2 separate regions of the Homo sapiens genome follow, and region 1 is linked to region 2. The links come from fine-mapping of genetic effects on gene expression. A gene starts in region 2. The other region holds a variant in brackets. All regions are shown on one strand. Distances are from middle to middle.

Region 1 (5,374 bases), 85 kb before region 2:
CATCCCAGCTAACACGGTGAAACCCCAACTCTACTAAAAAAATACAAAATTTAGCTGGGCTGGTGGCGGGCGCCTGTAGTCCCAGCTACTCGGGAGGCTGAGGCGGGAGAATGGTGTGAACCTGGGAGGCGGAGCTTGCAGTGAGCAGAGATCGTGCCACTGCACTCCAGCCTGGGCGACAGAGCAAGACTCCATCTCAAAAAAAAAAAATTAGCTGGATGTGGTGGTGCATGCCTGTAATCCCAGCTACTCAGGAGGCTGAGGCAGGAGAGTCTCTTGAACCTGGGAAGCAGAGGCTGCAGTGAGCCAAGATTGCACCACTGAACTCCAGCCTGGGCGACAGAGCAAGATTCTGTCTCAAAAAAACAAAACAAAACAAAAAAATCTGTAGATGGACACTTGGGTTGCTTACACCTTTCAGCTATTATAAATAATGTTGCTATGAATATGAGTGTATATCTATCTGTTCAAGTCCCTGCTTTCAATTCTTTGGGTTATATACCCCAAAATGAAATGGCTGGATCATATAGTAACTCTTTTTAATTTTTGGAGAAACTGCCATACTGTTCTCTACAGTAGCTGCACTGCTTTACATTCCCACCCACAGTGCAGAAGGTTCCAGTTTCTCCCCATCTTCACCCACGCTCATTGCTTTCTTGTTGTTTTTTGATAATGGCCATCCTAACGGGTGGGACATGGTACTTCATTGCCATTTTAATTTGCATTTCCCTAAGGATTAGTGACGTTGGGCATCTTTGAGCATCTTTTCATGTGCTTAGAGGCCATTTGTATATCTTCTTTGGAGAAACGTCTGTTTAAGTCCTTTGCCCACTTTTTAACCCAGTTGTTTTCCCCTATCTTAAATGGGAAGTTTTTCCCCTATTTTCTGAGAGTTTTACAGTTTTAGCTCCACATTTAGGTCTTTGATCTTTTTTTATTTTTATTTTTTGAGATGGAGTTTCCCTCTTGTTGCCCAGGCTGGAGTGCAGTGGCACAATCTCGGCTCACTGCAAACCTTCACCTCCTGGGTTTGAGCATGTCTCTTATTTCAGCCTCCCAAGTAGCTGGGATTACAGGTGCACACCATCACGCCTGGCTAATTTTTTGTAATTTTAGTAGCGACAGGGTCTCACCATGTTGGTCAGGCTGGTCTTGGACTCTTGACCTCAGGTGATCCACCCACCTCGGCCTCCCAAAGTGCTGGGATTACAGGCATGAGCCACTGAGCCCGGCTTTTGATCCATTTTTAGTTATTATTTATATGTGGTATAAGGAAAGGTGTAGTGTTATATACACATGCATATGTTTTTGTCCATGGTTCCTGGCTCAGAAACCCCATAGCCCTTGTTAGAGTCTTTCCTTTTAATGTCGGGTGTGTTAAAATGAGCCCCTGGGGCAGGCCTCAGGAAACAGAATCTCTCTGTCCTACTCTTGCCTTCCTTTCATCTGCCCGAAGGCAGGACTCTAATTTTCCCCCACCTTTCTTATTGTGGGTCTTAAGGCCCGCCCCAGAGAAAGTCCTACCCTATATCCTGGGGAAAGGAATGCTGATGTCATGAAGCTTCCATAAAAATCCAAGAGAACTGGGTTCAGGGAGTTTCCAGATAGCTGAACACATGGAAGTTCGTAATAAACTGGTAAACATAAGTAAGTGTTTCCCTGAGTTCTGTGAGCTACTCTAACAAGTTAATTGAACCCAAAGAAGGGGTTATAGGAACCCCAACTTGAAGCCAGTTTGGTCAAAAGTTCCTGAGGCCCAGACTTGTAACTGAGGGAAAGGAGGGGTCAGTCTTGTGGGACTGAGCCCTCAACTTGTGGGATCTGATGCAATCTCCAGGTAGATAGTGGTGGAATTGAATTGGAGGACACCAGCTGGTGTCCACTGATTGTTGATGGGGGAGAAAAAATCCACATATTTGGTCACAGAAGTCTTCTGTGTTGATTGTTGTGATGTGAGAGCAGAGGAAAAATATGGATTTGAGAGTTATTCCCAAAACCAAAGGGTCCAATTTTGTTCTTTTGCATGTGGATATTCAGTTGTCCCAACACCATTTGTTGAAAAAAAAGTCCTTTCCTTCATTGACTGATATCGCCATCCTTGTCTAAAATTATTTGAACCATATATGCAAGGGTTTAGTTCTGAGTTCTCTATTTTGTCCCATTGATCTATATGTCTGTCTTTATGTCAATACCACACTGTTTTGATTATGGTAGCTTTGTAGTAAGTTTGAAGTCAAGAAGTGTGAGATCTCCAACTTTGTCCTGTAGATGCCAGCTACTGGCAGGGTTAGTCCCTAACCACCTACTGCTTGCTAAATCAACTTTAGAGATGGTAGAGAGTTGCAGGCAACATGTTGGTTTGACAGAATGGGCTCCCTTGCCTTTCTGCTTGTAGATTCCACTGAAGAAGCATTGGTAAAGTCTCTCTTCCCACTGCCATCATGTCTAAGTCAGAGTCTCCTAAAGAGACCAGACAGCTGCAGAAGCTCTTCATTGGAGGGTTGGGCTTTGAAACAACTGACAAAAGCCTGAGGAGCCATTTTAAGCATGGGGAATGCTCAACGAACTGTGAGATGCAAACACCAAGCATTCCAGGGGCTTTGGGTTTATCACATATGCCACTGTGGAGGAGGTGGATGCCGCCATGTATGCAAGGCCACACAAGGTGTATGGAAGAGTTGTGGAGCCAAAGAGAACTGTCTCAACAGAAGATTCTCAAAGACCAGGTGCCCACTTAGCTGTGAAAAAGATATTTGTTGGTGGCATTAAAGAAGACACTGAAGAATATCACCTAAGAGATTATTTTGAACAGTGTGGAAAAATTGAAGTGATTGAAATCATGACTGAAACGAGGCAGCAGCAAGAAAAGGGGCTTTGTCTTTGTAACCTTTGATGACCATGACTCTGTGGATAAGATTGTCATCCAGAAATGCCATCCTGGCTGGGTGCAGTGGCTCATGCCTAAAATCCCAGC[A/G]CTTTGGGAGGCCGAGGCAGGTGGATCACTTGAGCCCAGGAGTTCAAGACCAGCCTGGCCAATATGGCAAAACCCCATCTCTACTAAAAATACAAAAAATTAGCTGGGCATTGTGGCACACACCTGTAATCCCAGCTACTCAGGACACTGAGGCCCAAGAATTGCTTGAACCTGGGAGGTGGAGGTTGTAGCGGGCTGAGATCATGCCACTGCACTCTAACTGGGGCAACAGAGTAAGACTCTGTCTCAAGAAAAAAAAGAAATACCACCCTATGAATGGTCACAACTTTGAAGTTAGGTAGGGAAGCTCTGCCAAAGCAAGAGATGGCTAGTGCTTCACCCAGCCAAAGAGGTCAAAGTGGTTCTGGAAACTTCGGTGGTGGTGGAGGGGGTGGTTTTGGTGGGTTGTGGAGGAAACTTCAGTCGTCATGGTGGCTTTGGTGGCAGCCGTGGTGATGGTGAATATGGGGGCAGTGGGGATGGCTATAATGGATTTGGTAATGAGGGAAGCAATTTTGGAGGTGGTGAAAGCTACAATGATTTTGGCAATTACAAGAATCAGTCTTCAAATTTTGGACCCATGAAGGGTGGAAACTTTGGAGGCAGAAGCTCTGGCCCCTGTGATGTTGGAGGCCAATACTTTGCCGAACCATGAAACCAAGGTGGCTGTGGCAGTTCCAGTAGCAGCAGTACCTATGGCAGTGGCAAAAGATTTTAATTATTGCCAGGAAAGAAAGCCTAGCAGGAGAGGCGAGCCAGAGAAGGGACAGGGAAGCTACAGGTTACAACACATTGTGAACTCAGCCAAGCACCATGGTGGCAGGGTCCAGCTGCTACAAAGAAGACATGGTTTTGACAAATATATGTATGGGCAAAAAACTCCAAGACTGTATTGATGACTAATTGCATAACAGATTATTTTCAATTTCTGTTCGTTGGAAAGCATAAAGCAGTCCAACAAAGGGCTTTAATGTAGATTTTGGTTTTTGCACCCATGCTGTTGATTGCTAAATGTAATAGTCTGATCATGACCCTAAATAAATGTGTCTTTAAAAAAAAAAAAAAAAAGAATGGGCTCTCTCTTACCAAGGCTGAAGCATTTGCCAGATCAATAGCTGCATCCTACAGACCAGCGTCTATGTTAATCTGCTCTAATGAAGATACTACCCCTGGCCTAGCAACTGCAGTTTGGGTTTACACTTGGGTACGTTTGCAGTAGGTCACTGTCATCTGTCATAATCCATTTATGTTATATAGAAGCTAGACAGGTAATGTGGGTGACTATGATGAGGACTGCTATTCTGACATCCTCTAAGTCTTTGAGGGTGGCATGGGTCACCATTCATCTCATGATTTCAAGGGCTTCTATTTGGCTTTTCCTACTATAATCGCCCTTACTGTAAAAATCAAGAAAAAAGTATAAGGGTTCTATGTGTTAGGTATGTTCATTTCTATCACACATTTGGGAATCCAGGAAATTTCCACTGGGTGAGCCCAGGCACTCAGTGCACCCATTGTGAGATGGACCAGACTTAGCAAGAGGGAACCCAACATGTAGCCTGCAACTCTCTGCCATCTCTGTGATCCCATGGTGCAAGCATTAGGGGGGATGAGGACAGGAATAGCTGGCATCTACTGGCCCAGTCATCCTGTCAACTTGGTTGTTCTCTTCTGTGGTGTGTGCTCTTTGGTGGGTATTAGCGAGTGATACAAAGGTTCTCAGCTGGACGCAGTGGCTCACGCCTGTAATCCCAACACCTTGGGAGGCTGAGGCAGGTGGATCTCCTGAGATCAGGAGTTTGAGACCAGCCTGGCTAACATGGTGAAACCCCATCTCTACTAAAAATACAAAAAAATTAGCCGGGTATGGTGGCTCACACCTGTAATCCCAGCTACTCTGGAGGATGAGGCAGGAAAATTGCTGAACCCAGGAGGCAGAGGTTGCAGTAAGCTGAGATTGCACTACTGCTCTCCAACCTGGGCGATAGAGCGAGACTCCGTCTCAAAAAACAAACAAACAAAACCAAAGATTCTCACACTTTTTGCTGCTTCCCATACATCCAGCCACATGTCTCCCCTCCAGACCTCTTATTTCCAATATTTCCAATGGCCAGGACTCCACTATCTCCATGTGCCCTACTCTGACACATGTCCAGGACAGCAAGTCTCAGCCTGACTCTGCCCTGTATCCAACAGTCCTTGAAAACATGGGCATACCACTTTCCTTAGTTATGGTTACCCAAGTAAATCCTTCGGGGAAAAGATTAGGGAAATAGCTACCCTATGCAATTGTCATGGTGCTGCAGAGCCCTTCTTTATGGTGACCTAGACCTTCCTTCAGCCAGTGAGTTTTTGGTTTAAGAGTTACGCCGGGCATGGTGGCACATGCCTATTATCCTA
Region 2 (5,374 bases):
CTAGTTTGGCAATAAAGACGTTTAGTATAAGATGATTTTTCCCTTGACACAGTTTACAATAAAAGTCCTCATAAAATTCCTACTTCCTAACCAAACAGAAAATTATGCCAGCTTTTGGAATTGGAGAGATGTGCAAATACAGTCAAAATTAGTTACACTGAATTATTTCAGAAATCAGCAATAAAATCACGAGGAAATTCTCTTCCTAAACATTAACATAATACTCTTGGCTGCCTCCATATACAGAAACAAAATGTGAGTGTTTCCTGGCAAGTGTGAATGAAAATGGCCAGCATAACAGCATATGCTTCTGCCTAACAAAGAATGACTATTACTTGTGTTATTTCTCATTTAAAATATTTTTTTAGGCCGGGCACAGTGGCTCATGCCTGTAATCTCAGCACTTTGGGAGGCCAAGGAGGGTGCATCACCTGAGGTCAGGAGTTCAAGACCAGCCTGGCCAACATGGTGAAACCCTGTCTCTACAAAAATTAGCCGGGCGTGGCGGCGGGCGCCTGTAATCCCAGCTACTCGGGAGGCTGAGGCAAGAGAATCGCTTGAACCCGGGAGGTGGAGGTTGCAGTGAGCCGAGATCGCGCCATTGCGCTCCAGCCTGGGCGACAAGAGTGAAACCCCCTCTCAAAAAAAATTTAAAAATTATATATACATATATACATATGTGTGCCAAAATAGTACATTCTCCCTCAGGGCACATTTCTGACTATGTTTTTGCTCTCAAAAAGCCCCGGATTATGCGTTTCAGGCGTATGGAAGGAAGGACCGACACTCTGCTTCAAAACCTCTACATGCCTCAACGTTCCCATTTGCTTTACACGACAAAGTCCTCATGGGCCGTATGCCAGACGTCCTGCACACAAACCTCAATCCGTCGCAGAGAGCTGGGGGCGTCAGCTGGAAGTGGATTACACTCTCCTTGGCACAAACGACTCAGGCCACAGGTATGTAAAGCAACTGCAAGAGCCTTTCTGTCCCTGTTTTTTATCAAGAGCAGCCTTTAATCTTGTCTTCCCAAAAGTGAAATAGACAAGCATCGCAACGTTTCTCTCTTACAGGCAGCCGGTGGCCTTCCCCTGTTAACTATGGAGACAATCCCTAGGCGTCCTTCTCCGCCCAGAGCTAGAAAAATTTCAGAGTCCTGATCATGCACTATCGCTCGAAAACAACTTCCGTGAAAATAACTTTTTTTTTCTCCTAGTATTCTTTCTTAGACCAAAAGCCCAGCCTTCGTGTTCTGCTATGACCTCTTTAGTCATGGGATAGAGTCCGGGTTACAAACTTGAATTTAGTTCCAGCCATTCACAAGTCTCTGGGCTCCGCCAACCCACACTCCCACTCCTTTCCTCCTGGTTCTCTAAGTCAAGGGAGCCTAAAAGGCTTATAAATTATCAAAGCACCCAGCATTTGGGAGGATCGGGTCCTCCAGCCTCCGAGCTGCACTCACCGGGTCTCGGGCAGGGAGAGTGCGGCCGTCCAGGCGGCGTCGGCAGCGGGAGGCGCAGTGACAGCGGGTCCCCGCTTCCCCGCGCACTGCCCAGACCAGCACTGCCCTGGCGCTGCGGATACGGGAAGGAGGAGGAAGGGGGAGGAGTCGCGAGTCTGCACCCCGTGAGACCCTTGCGCAAGGTGCTTTCCAGCTGTGCCTGGTGCAGCCGGCGACCCGCGAGCGCAGCTGTGGGCACGCCCCCACCTCTTCCCACGCCAGAGTTTTCCCCTCTGCTGGGGGCACCCTCCATTTCTGCATGGGAATCCCCGGGGCACCCAGGCGGGACGCGACCCGAAAGACACGCCGGAGACCCCCAACCCTGGATTACCTGCGGCCTTGGCGCTCCCACGCCGGCCGAGCGCTCCAGCCGCGGCCCCCCGAAGGTTCGGTGCGATGCTGGCTGCAGGCCTGTGGGAGCCGAGCACGCCGGGCCACTGGGATCCGGCGGCGGCAGCGGCAGAAGCAGGAACCAGGGCGCCGGACCCCAGAGCGTGGCGCGCAGTCCAGAGCGGAGCGGACGAGTGAGACCCGCGTCGCCCGCACGCTCAGACCGCCCTGCTCTGCCCCTGACTCACGGCGTCTGAGCCTGCCCAGGGGCGGCGCAGCGGACGCCAGCCACCGCCTCCCCGACTTTTCCATTTCCCCTTTCTCTCCGTAAACAGAAAGAGACTGCCCGGTTGCAGGGTAAGCCAGAGCCCCCGCGCTGGGAAATTCCGCGTCTCCCCCCCACCCGCCACCCCGCCGCCCCTCATTTGCCCTCTGGGCGCCCGGGCGGAGCTGGAGGCGGGACTAGGGAGGAGCAGAGCGGCGCGCAGGGAGGAGCGCGGGACGTGAGCTGCGGCCCGAATCGAGAGCCTGGGACGGGGACGAGTTTTCCCCCGGGCCTGGTGACCCAAGGCGTCTTAGTGGCGGAGTTGCAAGAGGTGGTTGTGCCCTTCCCGGTCCCCAGGGAAGGTCGTATATCTTAGTGTACTCGCGCCCTCGGCGCTTCTCTGGAGTCCCAGGGTCCGGCGGGAGGGCACGCTCCCGGGGGGCGGCGGGGAGGGCAGTCACCAGACCTTTTTCCGCGCGCCCCACGCTCTGGGGTGGGGACAGAGGCGCCGTGTGCCCTCCCAGCAGTGCTGCGGGAAGCCGGGGAAGCTTCGGGGCTTCTTGGAACCGCGACTGTGGGTCCGATTGCTAGTAGCACGGCCCCGCCTCGCCCAGATTTCGCTTCAAATTCACACACAAAGAGGGCAGTGACCCGTGGTGCGCACGCACACATTCCAACTTAGAGATTTCCAAGAGGCTGCGGCAGGGTGGGCCCGGAACCTGGTTGTTGGGCGCTCGGCTGGGAGCCTGTGCACTCCGCCAGCAGAACCTGGTTTTCTTCTCTGCAGTCTTTATTAAAATTGGTTATTTTGCGGCACCGCCTCATTAGGAAGCGTACTTGTACTATCTCCCCGCTCCCGCCTACCGCTAACCCTCAGTCCTAGCTGCTCATCTGGGGTTTTCCTTCTAGAGTGTCAAGCTTTTACTCCAGGTGTAACCGGAAGAGAGTTCTAGAGAAAAGCGCCACTCTCCCGAAATCCACTCTGCGGGACATTCCCAATGCCCCGCCACCCCCTCCCCCTACATTTCCCACGTATCAAGCACCCACTAGGAACCAGGCATTCGGCTAGAGCGCGGAGAGCTAGGAGCCATGTAAGGTCGACATCCTCTCTCTCTCTCTCTCTCTCTCTCTCTCTCCCCCCCCACCTACGGCCCAGGAGGTGGGGTGTCCCAGGCACAACCCAGATTCAAACGCGGTCACACTCCAAGTCCACGCCCTATTCTTCCCAGTGCCCAGGTCCGTGCTCCCTCTGCAGTTTCTAGATTGCCTCCGCGCGGTTGCGCACGCCTGTAATCCCAGCGCTTTGGAGGCCGAGGCGGGAGGATCACTTGAGGTCAGGAGTTGGAGACCAGCCTGGGCAACATAGCTACCCCGTCTCTACAAAAAATCTAAAAATTAGCCAGGCATGGTGGCTCACGCGTGTCATCCTAGCTCCTCGGAAGCTGAGGTAGGGGGATCCCTTGAGCCCAGCAGTTCGAGTCTGCCGTGAGCTATGATTGCGCCATGGCACTCCAGCCTGGGCGACAGAGCGAGGCCTTGTCTCAAATTTAAAAAATAAAATAAAACAAAAAAATTTTTGAGACTGAGTTTCGTTCTTGTTGCCCAGGCTGGGGTGCAATGGAGCGATCTGGGCTCACCACAACCTCCGCCTCCCTGGTTCAAGCGATTCTCCTGCCTCAGCCTCCCGAGTAGCTGGGATTACAGGCATGCGCCACCACGCCCGGCTAATTTTGTATTTTTAGTAGAGATGGGGTTTCTCCATGTTGGTCAGGCTGGTCTCAAACTCCCGATATCAGGTGATTCGTCCGCCTCAGCCTCCCAAAGGGCTGGGATTACAGGCGTGAGCCACCGCGGCCAACCAAAAATAAAATTTAAAAAAAAAATTTGCCTTGTACCTTCTCTAGAGCCCTCCACATTTCTGCTATGGAAAATGAATTACAATACAACCCGAGGATGTATTGAGAGAATTGCTGGAGGAGATAGGTTAGTTGAGGTGACAAGCCAGGGGCTTTTTGCAGGACCTTAACTCGCAGACAACAAGCCCAGGTAGCAAATCCAACGTCGAGGGCCGATTGACTGAATGGGCACTGTCATCCGTCAAGTTATTTTAAATACGAGAGCGATTTAATTTATATTCATTCACCTCATGAAGCAGGGCTTTGCCATTCCCTCCAAATATCCAGGCAGTCCCTTGCACCTAGAGGAGAACCCCTTCCTGAACCCTCCGCCTTTCTGATCTTGGAGGGAGGGAAGGCAGCTTCCACCAACCCGGCAGCACTGACCCGGCAGAAGCAGCCTGGGCCGGGGTTGGGGAGGAGAAGCCCCGCTCGCTTGCGCGCCGGATGGGTGGAATTTGGCACTGGCTCAAGCGGGTTATCCCAGTCTCAGCTGAAGCCGAAGTTATCAGTACACTTTTGGCCTTTTCGCTGGAAACCAGGTTAGCACAGGTTGTTACCTCTGATTGTAACGTGAGAAACAGAGACGTCTCTTTCTCTACTGCCGTGTTTAGACAACAAAGGATGATCTTTACACGAGTTTTAAAAATAGAACCATGGAACCACTCCCCTCCCCACCCGCCTTGTGTGAGCTCATTAAAACCACACCTAATCTTCTGGGAACTGCATTATTAGCCTTACTTCCTACACAGAAGTCTCCCAAATATAGCTGCATTTTAGGGAGCTGGTGAAATGGCTGGTCTAGCAGGGTTCTCTCTTGCTTCTGGCTTAATCCAGAGCAGGTTCATCTGTTGGGGTAAATTAGAAGGTTTTACTTGAAAACGTATGTAGAGTTTTTAACAAGGAGGCCAAAAGGGAGAGAGCAACTGAAAAGAAAGAAAAAGTCTGTGGACTCCCTGTATGTATGTATGTATGTATGTATGTATGTATGTATGTATGTATGATGTATTTGAGACAGGTTCTGGATCTGTCGCCCTGGCTGGACTGCAGTGGGGCGATCTCAGCTCACTGCAACCTCCACCTCCCTGGCTCAAGTGATCCTCCCACCTCAGCCTCCCAGATAGCTGGAACTACAGGCGCATGCCACCACACCCGGCTAATTTTTGTATTTTGGGTAGCGTTAGAGACGGGGTTTTGCCATGTTGCCCAGGCTGGTCTCAAATTTCTGAGCTCAAGCGATCTGCCCGCCTCAGCCTCCCAAAGTACTGGGATTACAGGCGTGAGCCACCTTGCCTAGACTCCTTGCATTTTTCTGGTCTGGCTTTTTGTTTTTTATGCAGGCTTACAAAAACAATCCTGCTCTTCTAGGGGCGAGCTAAGTGA

Evidence for each region. PIP is the estimated chance that this variant, and not a neighbour inherited with it, causes the effect.
Region 1: its variant is the best candidate, but not a certain one, in a credible set for the expression of MAP3K8 in whole blood (TOPMed, PIP 0.51).

Annotation. Positions count from the first base shown.
Region 1 is chr10:30,515,929-30,521,302 of GRCh38, reverse strand. It overlaps the pseudogene HNRNPA1P32. Among named protein-coding and RNA genes, the nearest start is that of MAP3K8, 84 kb to the right of the region's middle. The variant A/G (reference allele first, on the strand shown) is at 2,975.
Region 2 is chr10:30,430,837-30,436,210 of GRCh38, reverse strand. MAP3K8 (mitogen-activated protein kinase kinase kinase 8) reads right to left here and starts at 2,027. Exons shown (of 9, transcript NM_005204.4): 1 at 1,833-2,027. RefSeq lists enhancers at 348-437, 1-525, 526-1,063, 1,188-1,237, 1,528-1,627 and 3 more and a silencer at 2,068-2,307.